2 separate regions of the Homo sapiens genome follow, and region 2 is linked to region 1. Evidence: fine-mapped expression QTL. Tissue or cell type: whole blood. Region 1 holds a variant in brackets; the other region holds the start of a gene. All regions are shown on one strand. Distances are between the middles of the regions.

Region 1 (8,000 bases):
TTTGATTTATACATTTTCATCAGTGCTGCTCAGGTGAATTCCACAAGGGGCACTAGTGGGGAAAGAGAAATTTCCTGGGGAGCCCTAATAACCCGGCTTGAAGCATATTGCATCTCCAAACGTGGAAATTAGAATTGGGTTGTTTTCCAGTGGCCCACCAGAGGGCACTCTGCTCTTAGGAGGAAGTTCTGAGGCTGATGCGCCAGGGGCCCTGACCCCACCAGCCAGACTCCGGCCCCATCGCTGTCCCCAGGGGCTGGGATCAGCCACATCTGGTTGTAGCTGCACTAGGCCTTGGGGCAGGGGTGTCTGTAGCTGGCCGGCTCTCCTCTTGTGGGAACAGAAGCAAAGAAACCGCCAATTACACTGTCTGGGGTTTGCTGGATGAAGAGGAAGAAGGAAGAAACCCTGCTGGGACTAGCAGGGCCACTAACTCCAGACGCAACCTGGGCAGTGCCAAGAGCTGTGGGCTGGGGTGTTTCACTGTGTTTTCTTAGAGACTGTATTTGGTCTATTTGGCATCCATTTATCACAGGGCCAAATCACAGGGCCAAAAGCATTTATACCTCCCCTGCAAGCTGGTTTTTGCAAGTGTTTGAAAGTAATAATAGTTACAAACCCTCCAACCAATCCCAATCACAGGCCCCCCAACCATCTCTATTTAACTCTCACACCAAGCCAGTATTTCCCCTGCCCTAAATCACCCAGAGCCAGGTAGAGACAACTAGGGACGGCCCCTAAGCCCAAGGCCCCCTGGAATTATTCCAACTAGCCAGACCCGGGCTGCTTCCCCTGGCCTGCCTTGCACTTCGGGTGGAAACCCCACAAAAGGCTGTGGCCTGTGCTGTTCTGATCCTTCCTTTCAGCCTCCTGACCAAACTTGGTGCTCCCCCTGTGGCCCCGTGTGTGGTCCTGCGTGTGTGCCATGCCCTGTTCTCCTGGGAGATGCAAGTGATGAATTCTTTCAGTGTCCTTGGTCGCTCTGTGTTGTCACTCAGTCACCTCCATCAATTCAAATCCTGGGGGTACATTTTAAATTTTTTAAATTGATGCATAGTAATTGTACATATTTATGGGATACATATGATACTGTGACACAAGCATACAATGCATAGTGATCAGATCAAGGTAATCAGGATATCCATCACCTCGAACATTTATCATTTCACTGTGTTGGGAACGTTTCAAATCTTCTCTTCTAGCTATTTTGAAATATACAATAGGCTGGGCATAGTGGCTCACACCTGTAATCCCAGCACTCTGGGAGGCCAAGGTGGGAGGATCACTTGAGCCCAGGAGTCTGAGACCAGTCTGGGCAACATAGTGAGACTCAGTCTTTACGAAATGCACAAATTAGCCAGGCATGGTAGCATGCGCCTGTGCTGCCAGCTACTCAGGAGGCTGAGGTGGGAGGATCACTTGAGCACAGCAGGTCAAGGCTGCAGTGAACTGTGATGGTGCCACTGCACTCCAGCCGGGGTTACAGAGGGAGACCCTGTCTCAAAAAGAAAAAAAAGGCTGGGCATGGTGGCTCACGCCTGTAATCCTAGCACTTTGGGAGGCCAAAGTAGGTAGATCACCTGAGGTCAGGAGTTCTAGACCAGCTTGGCCAACATGATGAAACCCCATCTTTACTAAAAATACAAAAAAATTAGCTGGATGTGGTGGCTGGCACCTGTAATCCTAGCTACTCGGGAGGCTGAGGCAGGAGAATCGCTTGAACCCGGGAGAGGTTGCAGTGAGCCAAGATTGCACCATTGCACTCCAGCCTGGGCGATAAGAGTGAAACTCCATCTCAAAGAAAGAAAGAAAGAAAGAAAAAGAAAGGAAGGAAGGAAGGAAGGAAGAAAAGAAAGAAAGAAAAAAGAAATACACAATAAATTGTTTACTATAGTCACCCTACTGTGCAATCGAACACTGGAAATTATTCCTTCTATCCAGCTGTTTGTTTGTACCCATTAACCAATCTCTCCCCATCACCCCTCTCCCCTAAATAGAACTACCATATGATCCAGCAATCCTACTACTGGGTATTTATCCAAAGGAAAGGAAATCAATATATCAAAGGGATACCTGCACCCCCATGTTTATTGCAGCACTATTCACAATAGCCAAAATATGAAATCAACCCGTGTCCATCAATGGAGTAATAAATAAATAAATTTGGTACATGTACACAACAGAGTACGATTCAGCCATAAAAAAAGAAGGAAATCCTGTCATTTGCAGCAAAATGGATGGACAGTCATTATGTTAAGTGAAATAAGCCAGGCACAGAAAGACAAATATCTCATGTTCTCACTCATATGTGGGAGCTAAAAAAAGTTTATCTTCGAAAGTACATTTTAACACAAAGGGTCAGGGACCTGTTTGGAGTCTCTGCTTTGCCACTGACTGGCCGTCGGACCTGGACACATGCGCCTCACCTGCCTGAGCCTCACCTGCCTGAGCCTATTTCTCCATGAAGCAATGGAACTGGACCTTCTCTCACCTGTTTGGGGATGTGCCAATATGGCTACTCCTCTACCTCTCACATCGCCCTTAGCGGACCACAGTCTTAGAAAACCTGCCGTTTCTGGTCGGACGCAGTGGCTCACAATCATGAGGTCAAGCGATCGAGACCAGTGTGACCAACATGGTGAAACCCCGTCTCTACTAAAAATACAAAAATTAGCCAGGCATGGTGGCGCGTGCCTGTAATCCCAGCTACTCGGGAGGCTGAGGCAGGAGAATCACTTGAACTCGGGAGGCAGAGGTTGCAGTGAGCCGAGATCACGCCATTGCACTCCAGCCTGGGTGACAGAGTGAGAGTGAGACTCTGTCTCAAAAAAAAAAAAAAGAAAAAGAAAAGAAAAGAAAGAAAAGAAAACCTGCCATTTCCTCATAATTGAACTGCCATCACCTGGATATTCCCTGTGCCCTTCTCCAAAGCCAGCATGGCAACCACGGGGGTGAAATACTCAGACGAGCAAAGGGATCAGGGCTTTAAGAAGCCAGCCTTCAGCCAAGCATGGTGGCTCACACCTGTAATCCCAGCACTTTGAGGGGCCGAGGCAGGCGGATCACTTGAGGTCAGGAGTTCAAGACCAGCCTGGCCAACAGGGTGAAACTCTGACAGTACTAAAAATACAAAAATTAGCTGGGCATGGTGGTGCATGCCTGTAATCCCAGCTACTTGGGAGGCCGAGGCAGGGGGATTGCTTGAACCTGGGAGGTAGAGGCTGCAGTGAGCCCAGATCAGTCCACTGCACTCCAGCCTGGGCAACAGAGTGAGACTCTGTCTCAAAACAAACCAACCAACCAACCCTGACCAGTACTCCTCAAAATGATCAAGCTCATCCAAAACAAGGAAAGTCTGAGAAACTGTCACAGCCAAAAATCAGCTTTCAAAGGACTTGTTAAGTCCTTGCACATACATGTTCATGGTGGGATATTTACTACAGCACAAAGCTGGAAACAGCCCAAGGCCTATCAACAGCTGAATGGATAAACAAAAGTGGTCTAACCATATAAGGAAGATTTTTCTGCATGGATACGCCCTACGATATGGGTGAAGCTCGAAACACTCTGTTAAGCTAAAGAAGCCAAACGCAGAAGGTCACACAGTGTATAATTTCATTCATATGAAATGTCAGAAGTAACTCCATGGAGTCAGAACGCCCACTGGTGGTGACCAGAGATGGTGGGAGAGGAAGACCGGAAGGGACTGCTTACTGGGGATGGGGTTTCCTTTCAGGGCAATGAAAACATTTTGGAACTAGATAGAGGTGGTGGTTGCACCACACTGTGAATGTACCAAATGCTGCTGAATTGTTTATTTTAAATCGTTCATTTTATGTTATGTGAATTTCATAAAAAAGACATATTCAATATTCACTTTTCTGTAGAGTAGCAGGCTTGGATGAGACAT[A/G]TATCAGCTCAGGACAAAGGAGTCCTCTGGGAGGACAGCGAAGGGATTTTGCCACTGCTGTATCACTTGTGTACGAAAAAAAGGAGTGATCAGAATCACACACAGCAAAGCTAGTTGTCTATTGGAAATTCTCTGTATTTGAAATCTTTCATGATTTAAGAGAAAAAATGTTTAAGTAATAATAGAAAATCAAAAAGGAAGGAAGGAAGGAGGAAAGGAAGGAAGGGAGGGAGGGAGGAAGGAAGGGAGGGAGGGAGGGAGGAAGGAGGAAAGGGAGGGAGGGAGGGGAAGGGATGGAGAGAGGAAGGAAGGAAGGGAAGGAAGGAAAAGGAAGAAAGGGGAAGGAAGGGAAGAGGAGAAGGAAGGAAGGATGGATGGTGGGAGGGAAGGGAGGGAGGGAGGGGGAGGAAGGGAGGGAGGGGAAGCAATGAAGGAGGGAGGGAGGGAAGGAGGGGAAGGAAGGAAGAGAGGGAAGGAGTGAGGGAGGGGAAGGGAGGGAGGGAAGGAGGGGAAGGAAGGAAGAGAGGGAAGGAGTGAGGGAGGGGAAGGAAGGGAGGAAAGAAGGAAGGAAAGAAAGGAGCATTCTAACCCAGCTGAGTCTGAACGCAGTCTCCAGATCAGCACAGAGGTTTGCAGAGGTGAAAGCCTCATGCTGGATGGTGGGCCACGGGTAACCAATGACCAGACCACCAGCTTGACCACCAGGAGTGACCACTGAAGGTGAGATCTGAAGTCACTGAGGGCTGAGTGGGGGCTTCTGTCCCTGCTTTCCCCGAGAGGGGTGAAGTAAGAGCCACCCAAGAGCTGCCCCATCCCCACCCCTACTTAGCACAAAGCTATTTTATACATTTGTGTAATTTGTAGCAAAAATTTTGGTCACAAACAGTATTCACCTGCTCTGTGACAACCTTCTCCCTCTGTTACTATTATTCTGAGGCAGCTTTATATATATAGATGCCGTACTAGTTCCACTTTAAAAATTTTGCATGAGATGATAACGGGGTCAAGTGTTCCACAGAGGTTCGTGTCGGGGAGAAGCAGGACTTTGTCCTGGGCTAGCAGTATTCTTCTTAAGACCCAGGGTTTCATGTGAGAGGTTTTCAGGTTTTTTCAATGAAGTTTCTTAGAAATACAAATCCACTGGTCGGGCGTGGTGGCTCACGCCTGTTAATCCCAGCACTTTGGGAGGCTGAGGCGAGTGGATCACCTGAGGTCAGGAGTTCAAGACCAGCCTGGCTAACATGGTGAAACCCCGTCTCTACTAAAAAATACAAAAAATTAGCCGGGCGCGGTGGCGGGCGCCTGTAGTCCCAGCTACTCGGGAGGCTGAGGCAGGAGAATGGCGTGAACCCGGGAAGCGGAGCTTGCAGTGAGCCGAGATTGCGCCACTGCAGTCCGCAGTCCGACCTGGGCGACAGAGCGAGACTCTGTCTCAAAAAAAAAAAAAAAAAAAAAAAAGAAGAAGAAATACAAATCCATCATGTATATAGCAGGTATACAAACACATAAAAATAAACACTTGTATACCCACCGTCCAGCCTAAAGAAATAGAACTTTCCTGCTGATGAAGTCCTGCCTCTTTCTCCCGTCTCCCTTTGGAGCCAACTGTGGTCCTGAATTATATCATTCCCCTTGAGCTCTTTATTAGTTTTGTCACACACATACATGTGTGTATACATCATGTATATGCACATATGTATGTGTATATCCTTAATGACAGGCTGATGCATCTGGCATGTTTTTGAACTTTATGTAAATGAAATATTTCTCACACACACACACACACACACACACTTCTGTGACTTGCTTTTGTGGCTTCTGTTGCTTCGTGATTCTTCCATGTTGAAGTGCACAGCTATAGCTCATCACTGCTGTGCAGTGTTCCACTGCTTGGACGCACAGCTCATTCATTCACGCTCTTGTTAATGGACATTTGGATTGTCTCTTAGAAGTACTGCTGCTTTGAATACTTGTCTCCTGGTGCATGGGCCAAAGAATTTCTCTAGGGCAGTGGTTCTCAATCCTGGCTGCACTCTACAATGACCTGGGAGAGCTTTGCAAAAATGCTGATGCCCTGGGCCCTACTCCAAGGGATTCTGACTGAATTGGGTTTTGGAGAGGAAATCCAGGAATAGGCTTTTGTTTTGTTTTGTTTTGGTTTATTTTTGGAAGCTATCCAGGTGATTCTAATATGCAGCCAGTGTTCAAAGTGACATGAGGGTGACATTGCCCAAAGTATCCCTACCAACAGGGAGTTCTCACCCGGCCACATTTTCACCAATACTTGGTAAGGTTTCTGTTTAGCCTTCTCCCTGCCACAAGGACAGGCAGCTGGGCTGTTCACAGTCTCTCTTCTCCAGTGCAGAGACCAGGGTGCTTCCAGCATGCCAGGCTCCGCTGTGGGGTTCTCCCTTCAGCCCCACTGCCTGCCTGTGCCCTTGGACCCCACTGTTACACACGAGGGCCCATTCTGCAGCTCAGGGGTATCTTCATCTGGAGCAGGTTTGCACCCTCATCTGCTCTCCCTTCTCTCCTGTCCACACTCTGGCTCCAAAGCCTCTGCTCTCATCTCCTTCCAAGTATTTTGTGGTTCTGTTTTGGCTGCCTCCTAACCCCAAGGAAGGTAATGGTTTGTCTCTGCTGTCCCCTCCATTTACTGATTTTGAATGATTTCGGAAGGGGGAAGTCCCAAATGTACACTGCCAAGTTCTAAGCTAGAGACTTTAGAAAACTAAAAAAGAAGAAATATTACACCCCCAGCCCCATCTCGGTCCACATTGGGCTGACTCAGAACATCCAAGGACATCAGGCCTCAGTACTTTTTTTTTTTTTTGAGATGGAGTTTCACTCTTGTCACCCAGGCTGGAGGGCAATGGCACCATCTTGCCTTACTGCAACCTCCGCCTCCTGGGTTCAAGCGATTCAACTGCCTCAGCCTCCAAAGTAGCTGGGATTACAGGCATGCACCACCACACCTGGCTAATTTTTGTATTTTTAGTAGAGGTGGGGTTTCACCATGTTGGCCAGGCTGGTCTCGAACTCCTGACTTCAAGTGATCCACCTGCCTCGGCCTTCCAAAGTGCTGGGATTACAGGTGTGAGCCACTGTGCCGGGCCAGGCCTCAGTACTTTATTTTTTTGAGACGGAGTCTCGCTGTGTCTCCCAGGCTGGAGTGCAGTGGTGTGATCTCGGCTCACTGCCAGCTCTGCCTCCCAGGTCCAAGCGATTCTCCTGCCTCAGCCTCCCGAGTAGCTGGGACTACAAGGCACCCACCACCACACCCGGCTAATTTTTTGTATTTTTAGTAGAGATGGGGTTTCACTGTGTTAGCCAGGAGGGTCTCAATCTCCTGACCTCATGATCTGCCCACCTCAGCCTCCCAAAGTGCTGGGATTACAGGCGTGAGCCACCACACCCGGCCAGGCCTCAGTACTTTTAAGAGGTGCTCAGGTGAATGATGGCAGCAGGTTACCCTCCCAGTCTCACCCTTTCCTCAGATGTAAGATGAGGTTGCATTCAGTGATTATAAGAGCCCATGTTGGCTCCAATACTGTGAGCTTGCTGAACGCTGAAACCTCTAGCCTGTCTGGCTGTTGCCTCACTGGGTGCAGGTGTAGGTGCAGGTGTGTCTGAGCCCCCGGCCCAGGTGTGTCCTGCTGATTGGCAAGGACTCTTCCCTCACTCTGGGCCCCAGACTCCGAGCTAGCTGGCTTGCCCCGGACCCTGTGGAGTGACACGGCAACTGCCGGCATAAAATCATTAACTATGCCAACTGCAGCAGACAGGAGATGGCAGTATCCTTTTTGCCAGCAACAGCTGGGACTCAGAGCAAGAATCGGCGAGGGCTTGTGGCATTTGCTAGGCCTGTCCAGGAAGCTCTGGCTCAGGATCTCTTGTCCTCAACATGGAGGTTGAGATTTTTGTCCTTCATATGGGCAAGTGCAGCAGAAGCAACCAACAGTGGCCCTGCAGCTTAATAATTATGTTACTATCGGACCAGGCAGTGGCTCACACCTATAATCCCAGCACTTTGGGAGGCCGAGGCAGGTGAATCACAAGGTCAGGAGTTTGAGACCAGCCTGGCTAACAT
Region 2 (8,000 bases), 40 kb after region 1:
GCTGATTACAGCGTCTTCTGGGACTCAGATGTCTTAAGATGTAGGCTTTCTACTAGCAGTTCCAAAATGGATTGGATGTAGCCAAATCATCTGGGATACTTATTAAGTTTCCTGATTCCTGGCACTTTATTTAGATCCATTGACTCTACTCTTAAGAGGTTGGGCCCAGGAGCTTGCATTTTTAATCAAGTAGGTAATTCTGATGCTCAGTCAAGTTTGAGATGGTAGTGTTGTCCAGAGGGCCAGATGTATCTGTGACAGTCAAGAAGTAGTCAAGAGGGAACCCAGGAGTTCCCATGGCCTTGGGTAGGAACTGCCTCAGACTTGCACCAGCCCACAGCGGTAGTGTGGGTTTCTTTACAGTTTAACTGGTACACCCGCCGAGCCATGCTGGCTGCCATCTACAACACAACAGAGCTGGTGATGATGCAGGACTCCTCTCCAGACTTTGAGGACACTTGGCGCTTCCTGGAAAACCGGGTTAATGATGCAATGAACATGGGCCACACTGCCAAGCAGGTAGGTGGGGACTAGCCATTGGGGAACCCTCTTTAGAAGGCATACCTATTCTCCTCAGGTCACAGCTGGTCTTGCTCCCTTTTGGCCTCAGCTGACAGTCCTGAGGGCCTTCCCAAGGGCCTGGCTGGTTCTTCCTCAGGCCAGCCCTTCCCTAAGAGCCACACTTTGCTCATTTGCATTTGTGATTGTGTTGTCCAAAGCTCTCCTTCCAGTAACGTGGCCCCCTTGTCTTCACCTTTTGGGGCTCATAGGCCTCCTGATTTGTCCTGCCTGTCTCAAGTTTAACTTTGTGTTGGTGGCCTAAGGGAACCTGACACTGACTCCTTCTAGGTAAAGTCCACAGGAGAGGCACTGGTGCAAGGACTCATGGGTGCAGCAGTGACGGTGAGTACTGCCCAGCACATCCCTGCCCCTCCTCTCTCCCATTCCGGCTCTGTGATACATGTGTTACTGACTTCACATCATTTTGTAGCCCTAACCTGGAAACAATAATCTAATAATAAGGCTGACAATGGTTCAGCCCTAGTGTCTTGATTCCAAAAACCTCACTTCTTTATTTTTTCCTGTCATCAGGAGATATCACTGACTCCTGGGACCCTGGTATATCAAGTCTCTGTATCATAGCCACACCTGCCACCTTGCAAACCTGGATCTTGGCCAGGTGCAGTGGCTCATGCATATCATCTCAGCGATTTGGGAAGATCGCTTGAGCCCAGGAGTTTGAGGACAGTCTGGCCAACATAGCAAAACCCTGTCTCTATGCAAAAAAGAAAAAAAAAAAGAGAAAAAGAAAAGCTAGGTCTTTTCTATTAGAGTCTAGAGGCAAGGTAAGCCCTCACTATTCTCTTTATTTCCATTCCCGTGTCAGCTCAAGAACTTGACAGGTCTAAACCAGCGTCGGTGAGAGGAAGGGGTATAAGCTACAATGCCTAGAAGAGAATGAGCGGACAGATTGAAAGAGCTTTGAAAAGTATAAGGTGCCATCCACATAACCTGGTGTTCACGAGAACACACTAAAGGACTCCTGAGTCACTACCACAGCCACCTGGAAACCACAAGGCATTTGATGCTACCGTTCTGGTCAGGGATTGGGCTGCTTCTTCAGTTCCTAATACCAGACCAAGCCTCCTGATGCCTTTCTGCACTGCAACTGTGTGATTGAAAAATGAGATGTTCATCCAAGCAGTCAAGCCACAGAAACCCAGCATGTCCCTGTCACAATCTCATGGGCACCTTGATCATGTCTTAACCTTCCCTTAACCTTGGGGCTCCCAAGCCAGAGTCAAGGTCTGACGCCACCTCAAGGTGACAGCTCATCTCCAGCACAGCACAGGCGTGTGCACACAGAGGTGTTCCTTGCAGCCCCCTCCCTCTCAGGTGTCCTGAGATGCTGTTCCTGGGAGCCCCCTCAGAAAACTGCCTCACCTGAGACAAGTGCCTGCTGGACAGAGGTGTGATTCCAGGCCTGGTGTCACATGACACCAGCATGCATTGCAGGATTATTAGTGTATTTTGAGTCTGTAAAAATAATAAATATGTTTGAAGTAGTTTCCCATTGTGTAGTTAGTTTCCTTATCAATCATGATAGGTATCCAGGACCCCAGAGGGAGACAGGTTAAGTTATGGCAGCCAGGAGACCTGTGTTCTGGCGCTGCCACTGCCTAATACATAGTGGTAATTATAGTACCTCTGCGTCTCTGGGCTCAAGTCTTCCCATCAGTAAAATACGGGTAACAGAAGCCTTCCCACAGACCATCAGCTCCCTTGGCTGCTCTTGTCTGACGATTTTAGTGGTACATTCTTTAGCCCCAGTAATTTTCTCAGCCTCTACACTGGCTGGGTTCCCTTTGCACGTCTGGTTAGCTCTGTTTTCTGCTTTGCTCTCTTCTGCCTGTCAGCTGAATATTAATGGGGGAAAGTCAGCAACTAATTGAATTTCAGATCTCTTGTGGGTCTTCCACTGGATCTTTTTTGCACCTCTCAATTCCTTGTATCTCTTGACATCCTGTGAAGTTTTCGCAGTAGCTGTTCCAGTTTTCATTGCATTCTCCTTTTTCCTTCATAGCATCCATCTTACACTCAGCAGACAACCATAATTCTTAATTTACCAAGATGACACAGGTTATGGAGCAGGGTTCCATCAGTGCCCACCCTCTGTTTCAGGAAGAGGTGTCACTCTTTGCAAAGGCAAACTCCTCTTTATCTGGTTACTCTTCTCCCAACTCTTAAATGTATTTCCTGCCACGTTCTATTTTAGAGCTTTTCTCTGTTGGAGCAGCAGCCACTTTTTTTGAGGCCCATTTAAACCTCTCTCCAGTCTGTTTAGGGGACTTCAGTAGTTCTTTGTTGAGCATGCACCCCACATGGTGCCCACTGCCAGGCACTGGGGATGCAGAGACAAAGAGTTCCCACTCACCCACCACAGCTACACAGACTGTAGAGGAAGCATTAGGTTAAAGAACATTGTATCTTTTCCTGAAGTTTTCAGAAGTGCATGGTCCATACTTGAGACTGCAAGGGAAAGGGTATTTACTTATAATTCAGGTATACTTTGCTAAAATATACATTCATATTAAAATATACTTTTGTTTTTCTATAGATGTACAAGTTCTTTTTAAGTGCTTCATAGTATTCCATGTGTGTATACTCCACCAGGTCTCTTATCAATGGACAGTACAAACAGTACTACCACGAACGTCCCTGCACTCGTATCTTTGTTTACAACTGCAAGTGTTTCTGCAGTATGAATTCTTAGAAGTGTTACTGTTAAGTGAAGGACGTATGCGTGTTTTGCCAAACTACCCTCCGAGATAGCTGAATCTGGTACATTTTAAAGCAGGAGGCCGCAGAAGACGCTCGGCAGTTCTGGCCTCCGAGCAGCAGGCGGCGCTGTGAGTCGTCTTTGCGGAAGCCGCGGAGGCCTCGCTGACTGACTTCCGGTGTTGGCGGTGGCGCCGCGCAGTCACCGCGGAGCAGACGCGGAGGCTGGTGGCCCCTGGGCGAGATGCCGTACGCCAACCAGCCTACCGTGCGGATCACGGAGCTCACTGACGAGAATGTCAAGTTCATCATCGAGAACACCGACCTGGCGTAAGGCTACCGAGGGAAGAGGCTGGCGGCTCTGGGGCGCCGGGAGGCCCAAGCCGGGGCCCCGGGGCAGGGGGCGGGGGTGTAGTGGGGTGGGGTGGGGGCGATGTCCTTCCAGAGCTGCCCCCCTGCACCAGGGCTTTAGCTTTGGGAGCCTGCGGCGCGGGCCCAGCCTGTCGAGGCTGCAGCGCCTTCACGCCCCTTGGCTTTTGATCTTTCAGGGTGGCCAATTCGATTCGGAGGGTCTTCATCGCTGAGGTTCCCATAATAGGTAAGCGACTCCCCTTCCTCGTTCCCGCGCCCACGGGTTCCTGCCCCGCTCTCCACCCACACACTCTTTGGGGCTCCTTCCAGTCCTTGGTTCGGGCTGAGGGTGGTAGTGCTGAGAAAAGTGCATTGCTGGAGACTTGACCATACCCTGTGCCCTTGGCTCAGTGGCCGCCTCCCTGGCGCCCACGGGCCACTTAGGTCCACCCTTGTCCTGGGTATGCATTGCTGAGAAGCATGGGTTTAGCAGTGTGCAGACTTGGGTTCAAATACTGTTTTCACTACTATTGTTACAAAAGTTTTTAAAATGTTTTCAACTTTTATTTTGGAGTCAAGGGGTACATTGGTGCAGGTTTGTTGCCTGGGTATAGTGCGTGATGCTGAGATTTGGGGTATAAATGATCCTTTCACCCAGGTAGTGAGCATAGTACGCAATAGGTAGTTTTTCACCCCTAGCCCCACTGCCTCCCTTCCAGCTCTAGTAGTCACCAGTGTGTTTATTGTCATCTTTATGTCCGTGCGTACCCAGTTTTAGCTCCCATGCGGTGTTTGGTTTTCTGTTCCTGTGTTAATTCTCTTAGGATAATGGCTTCCAGGCCGCGCTCGCGCCTGTAATTCCAGCACTTTGGGAGGCCAAGACTGAGGAACACCTGAGGCCAGGAGTTTGAGACCAGCCTGGCCAACATGGGGAAAGCCCGCCTCTACTAAAAATGCAAAAATTAGCCAGGTGTGGTGGCTCCCACCTGTAATCCCAGCTACTGGGGAGGCTGAGGCAGAATTGATTGAACCCAGAAGGTGGAGGTTGCAGTGAGCCGAGATCATGCCACTGCACTCTGGCCTGGGCAATAGAGTGAGACTCCTTCTCAAACAAAAGAAAATAAAAAAGAAGATAGTGGCTTCCAGCCACGTCCATGTTGCTGCAGAGGACATGATTTCGTTCGTTCTTATGGCTGCATCACTTACTGCTTTTGTGAAACTTGGGCAAGTTATTAAACTTCTGTGTGCTGCAGTTTCCTCATCTGTAACATTCGGCCACTAATGATCCTTATCAGGGTAATGTTAAGGATTAAGTGAGGTAATCCATATAAGTGCTTTGTGTTTAGTGAGTGCTCAGTGCTGGTAGATGGCTTTTTTATTAATCTATTCCTTCAACAGCATTTATGGAGCATGAAAGTGGCAGGCATGGTGGTAAGCTCTGGGAATGCAAAGCTGTAGAGAACAGGGTTTTTGCCCTCATGGAGTCCACAGTGAGGTTGTAGGGGAGAGATGAATCCACAGACAACACTAAAGCAAGGTAGATTTTGATCAGTAGTTCAGGAGAAGCATAGCTGTGGTGCACTTGGCTCTTAGAGGAGGGAAGATCAATTTCTGGTCTGGTTCCAGCCACTCTGCTCCAGGTGCTTAATGCATTGATTATACTTGTATGAAATACTTCAAGCATTTCTGAGAGTCAGCTCAGAGAGTTTGGATTAGGCAAAATAAATATAAGTCATAGCTGTGGCATCAAATATTCAGACTTTTAAGGAAATAAGCAGGCCAAATGATTAGGCAAGAGAACATTGTAGTTTATCCACTACCACCACCACCCCACCCCCCCGCCCCCCAGTCACTTCTTAAATTCAGCTTGGAGTGCTGGACCTCCCCCTGCCTAAGCACTTCATGCCTCTGGACCTCAGTTTCATCAGGAGTCAGGTGAGGGAGTTGTACTTCATGATGCAGCCCTGCCATTCTGAGTCTAAATGCCTCTTTCCCAACAAATTCAGTTCTACAAATAATATTGAGCACCCATGCTAGGAATACAAAGACATCCCAGGACCTGCGTGAAGGAATTTCTGAAGCTTGAGGTATAGACATAACATACACAAATATGACACAAGGCACACTATGACAAGTGTCTTGAGGGAAGTCTGAACAGAGTTTTGTGAGAGAGGAGTTGAAAGGGAGGGAATGTCACATCTGTAGCATAGAGAGCAGGCAAGGCTTAGTTTTCAGGAGGCACAGAGGATCTTAACCTGTACAGCAAGGAGGGGAAGGGTGTGCTGGAGGGAAGGGCTGGGGGATTAAAGAGGCAGAAAAGCTTGGGTCAGGGTTCTCTCAGTTGGCTTGGACTGGGGAAGCAATGGGAAGCATAGCAGGACAGAGCAGGTGGAGGCCTGGCAGGGGGAGGTCCTCTTCCGACCGCTGTTCCTAGTGTCTGTGTCCCTCGTTTGGCAGTTGGGCTCCAGTGCCATTTGATTCCTGGATTTAGTTGGTTCCATGCAAATGTTTATGAATGAATAAATGTGTGTTTAAGTCAAGCATGTGTGATCGATAATACAGTCTTTACCCTCCTACGAGCTCATTGCTGCTAGGGATTGGGTTCTATATTTAGTATACTTTGCGCATTAAAAGAATTCAGTAAACATTTGTTGATTGAGTGTTTAAAAAGTGCTAAGTTGGGCAGTCCAGTCATTATATCCTAAAATGAGGTATGGCCCCATAAGTCTGTGTTGCTTCTGTGAGGGTTTCCCTGACTTTGAAGTGCTCAAATAGTTCATGTTCTTGGATTTAGTGGTGGCACAGGTAGCAGATTTAAGTGCTTCTCATGCAAATACTCAGCTCAAATAAACATGTTTCCACTTCTATGATATTCTATAAGTCAGTGTTTTCTGTGAAGCAGGGAGCCCCCTGCATTAAATTCACCTGGGCAGGGAGGTGAGGTGTGGTGTGTGTGGGTCTTATTAAAATGCAAGTACCTGGGCCCCACTCTAATGCTGTGGAATCAGCCCAGCAATCTGCAGTTTAGTGTCAGGTGATTCCTAAATCTTGAGAACCACTGCATTAAGTCTGTAGGTAAATTTGATGGCTAAACTCCATGTCTGCTTCTTTCATTTTTTAGCCATTGACTGGGTTCAGATTGATGCCAATTCCTCAGTTCTTCATGATGAATTCATTGCTCACAGGCTTGGTGAGTACTCCTTTTACTAGGAGGTTAAAGGGAGGGTATTGTGCCTAGTGTCAGGAGGGGGCCTCCTTCCAGCCTCACCCCCAGAAGGCTTCTGGGTTCTCATTTTGGCTTGGCTGTTTGGTTTTCTTTAAAGTGCTTTTCTGTTTTTTACAGGATTAATTCCCCTCATTAGTGATGACATTGTGGACAAGCTGCAGTACTCTCGGGTATGTTGTGTGATTGGGTGGAATGTGAGGTTTGGTGGGGAGGCTTTGGTTCTCAAAGGGATTTTTCCTGACATTTGGCATCCAGCTTGAATACTGTTGTAGTTCTGGAACAACAACGTGGAGATGTTGTCTAGAGCCTGGGCAGGCCTTGGTCCTGCGTTCTGATGGGGCTTCAGATTGATTAGCACGCAGAACATCAGGGAGTGTTGTTAGGCAGCTCCACCACAGTGCCCATTTATACTTAGAGTGGAGGTTCTTCCTTCCAAAGCATCTCTTCCCAGTAGCAGGGGCCTTAGGATGCTACAGGAGTCAACAGAAGGTTGGGGTAGGCAAGGAGCAGAGGGAATGGGAGCTGTCTCACAAGAGCAGCTCCTGGGGGACTAGTCCTGGTGTCTGCAGATTCATGCTGTCCCCTCCCTCGCAGGTGATGCTGCTTAAACATGGCCACACTCTTAGTGTCTCACCCCCTTCCTCCTGGTCGTGTTTGCTCCCTGATGGCATGTTAACAGGCCTTCAGAGTTTGGAGAGAGTAGGATAGGAGTCGGTTACCTTCATCCTTTCACTAGGCTGCATTACACAGCAGCTTAAGGCTACTCCCTCTTGATGGCTTTGGGTGATCCAGAATCAGTCCATTTTCTAATATTCTCAAGGGCCATGTCATTTTTGTGATGGCTAATTTGATATATCTTATAAATATGTGTGTATTTTTAAAAAAGAAATATTCAGCTGGATGCAGTGGCTCACACCTGTAATCCCAGCACTTTGGGAGGCCGAGGCGGGTTTATCACGAGGTCAGGAGATCGAGACCATCCTGGCTGACACGGTGAAACCCTGTCTCTACTAAAAATACAAAATATTAGCCGAGCGTGGTCCCGCTCCCAAGTAGTCCCAGCTACTCGGGAGGCTGAGGCAGGAGAATGGCATGAACCCGGGAGGCGGAGCTTGCAGTGAGCCGAGATTGCGCCACTGCACTC

Evidence for each region. PIP is the estimated chance that this variant, and not a neighbour inherited with it, causes the effect.
Region 2: it holds the start of POLR2C, and the variant in region 1 is fine-mapped to the expression of POLR2C in whole blood (TOPMed, PIP above 0.99).

Annotation. Positions count from the first base shown.
Region 1 is chr16:57,418,876-57,426,875 of GRCh38, forward strand. No RefSeq gene overlaps it. Among named protein-coding and RNA genes, the nearest start is that of CCL17, 18 kb to the left of the region's middle. The variant A/G (reference allele first, on the strand shown) is at 3,911.
Region 2 is chr16:57,459,202-57,467,201 of GRCh38, forward strand. It overlaps POLR2C (RNA polymerase II subunit C), which reads left to right and starts at 3,478. Exons shown (of 9, transcript NM_032940.3): 1 at 3,478-3,609; 2 at 3,828-3,877; 3 at 6,752-6,820; 4 at 6,974-7,026. The coding sequence starts at 3,524. It overlaps COQ9 (coenzyme Q9), which reads left to right. Exons shown (of 9, transcript NM_020312.4): 7 at 364-519; 8 at 850-903; 9 at 1,388-2,069. The coding sequence ends at 1,423. RefSeq lists an enhancer at 3,336-3,630.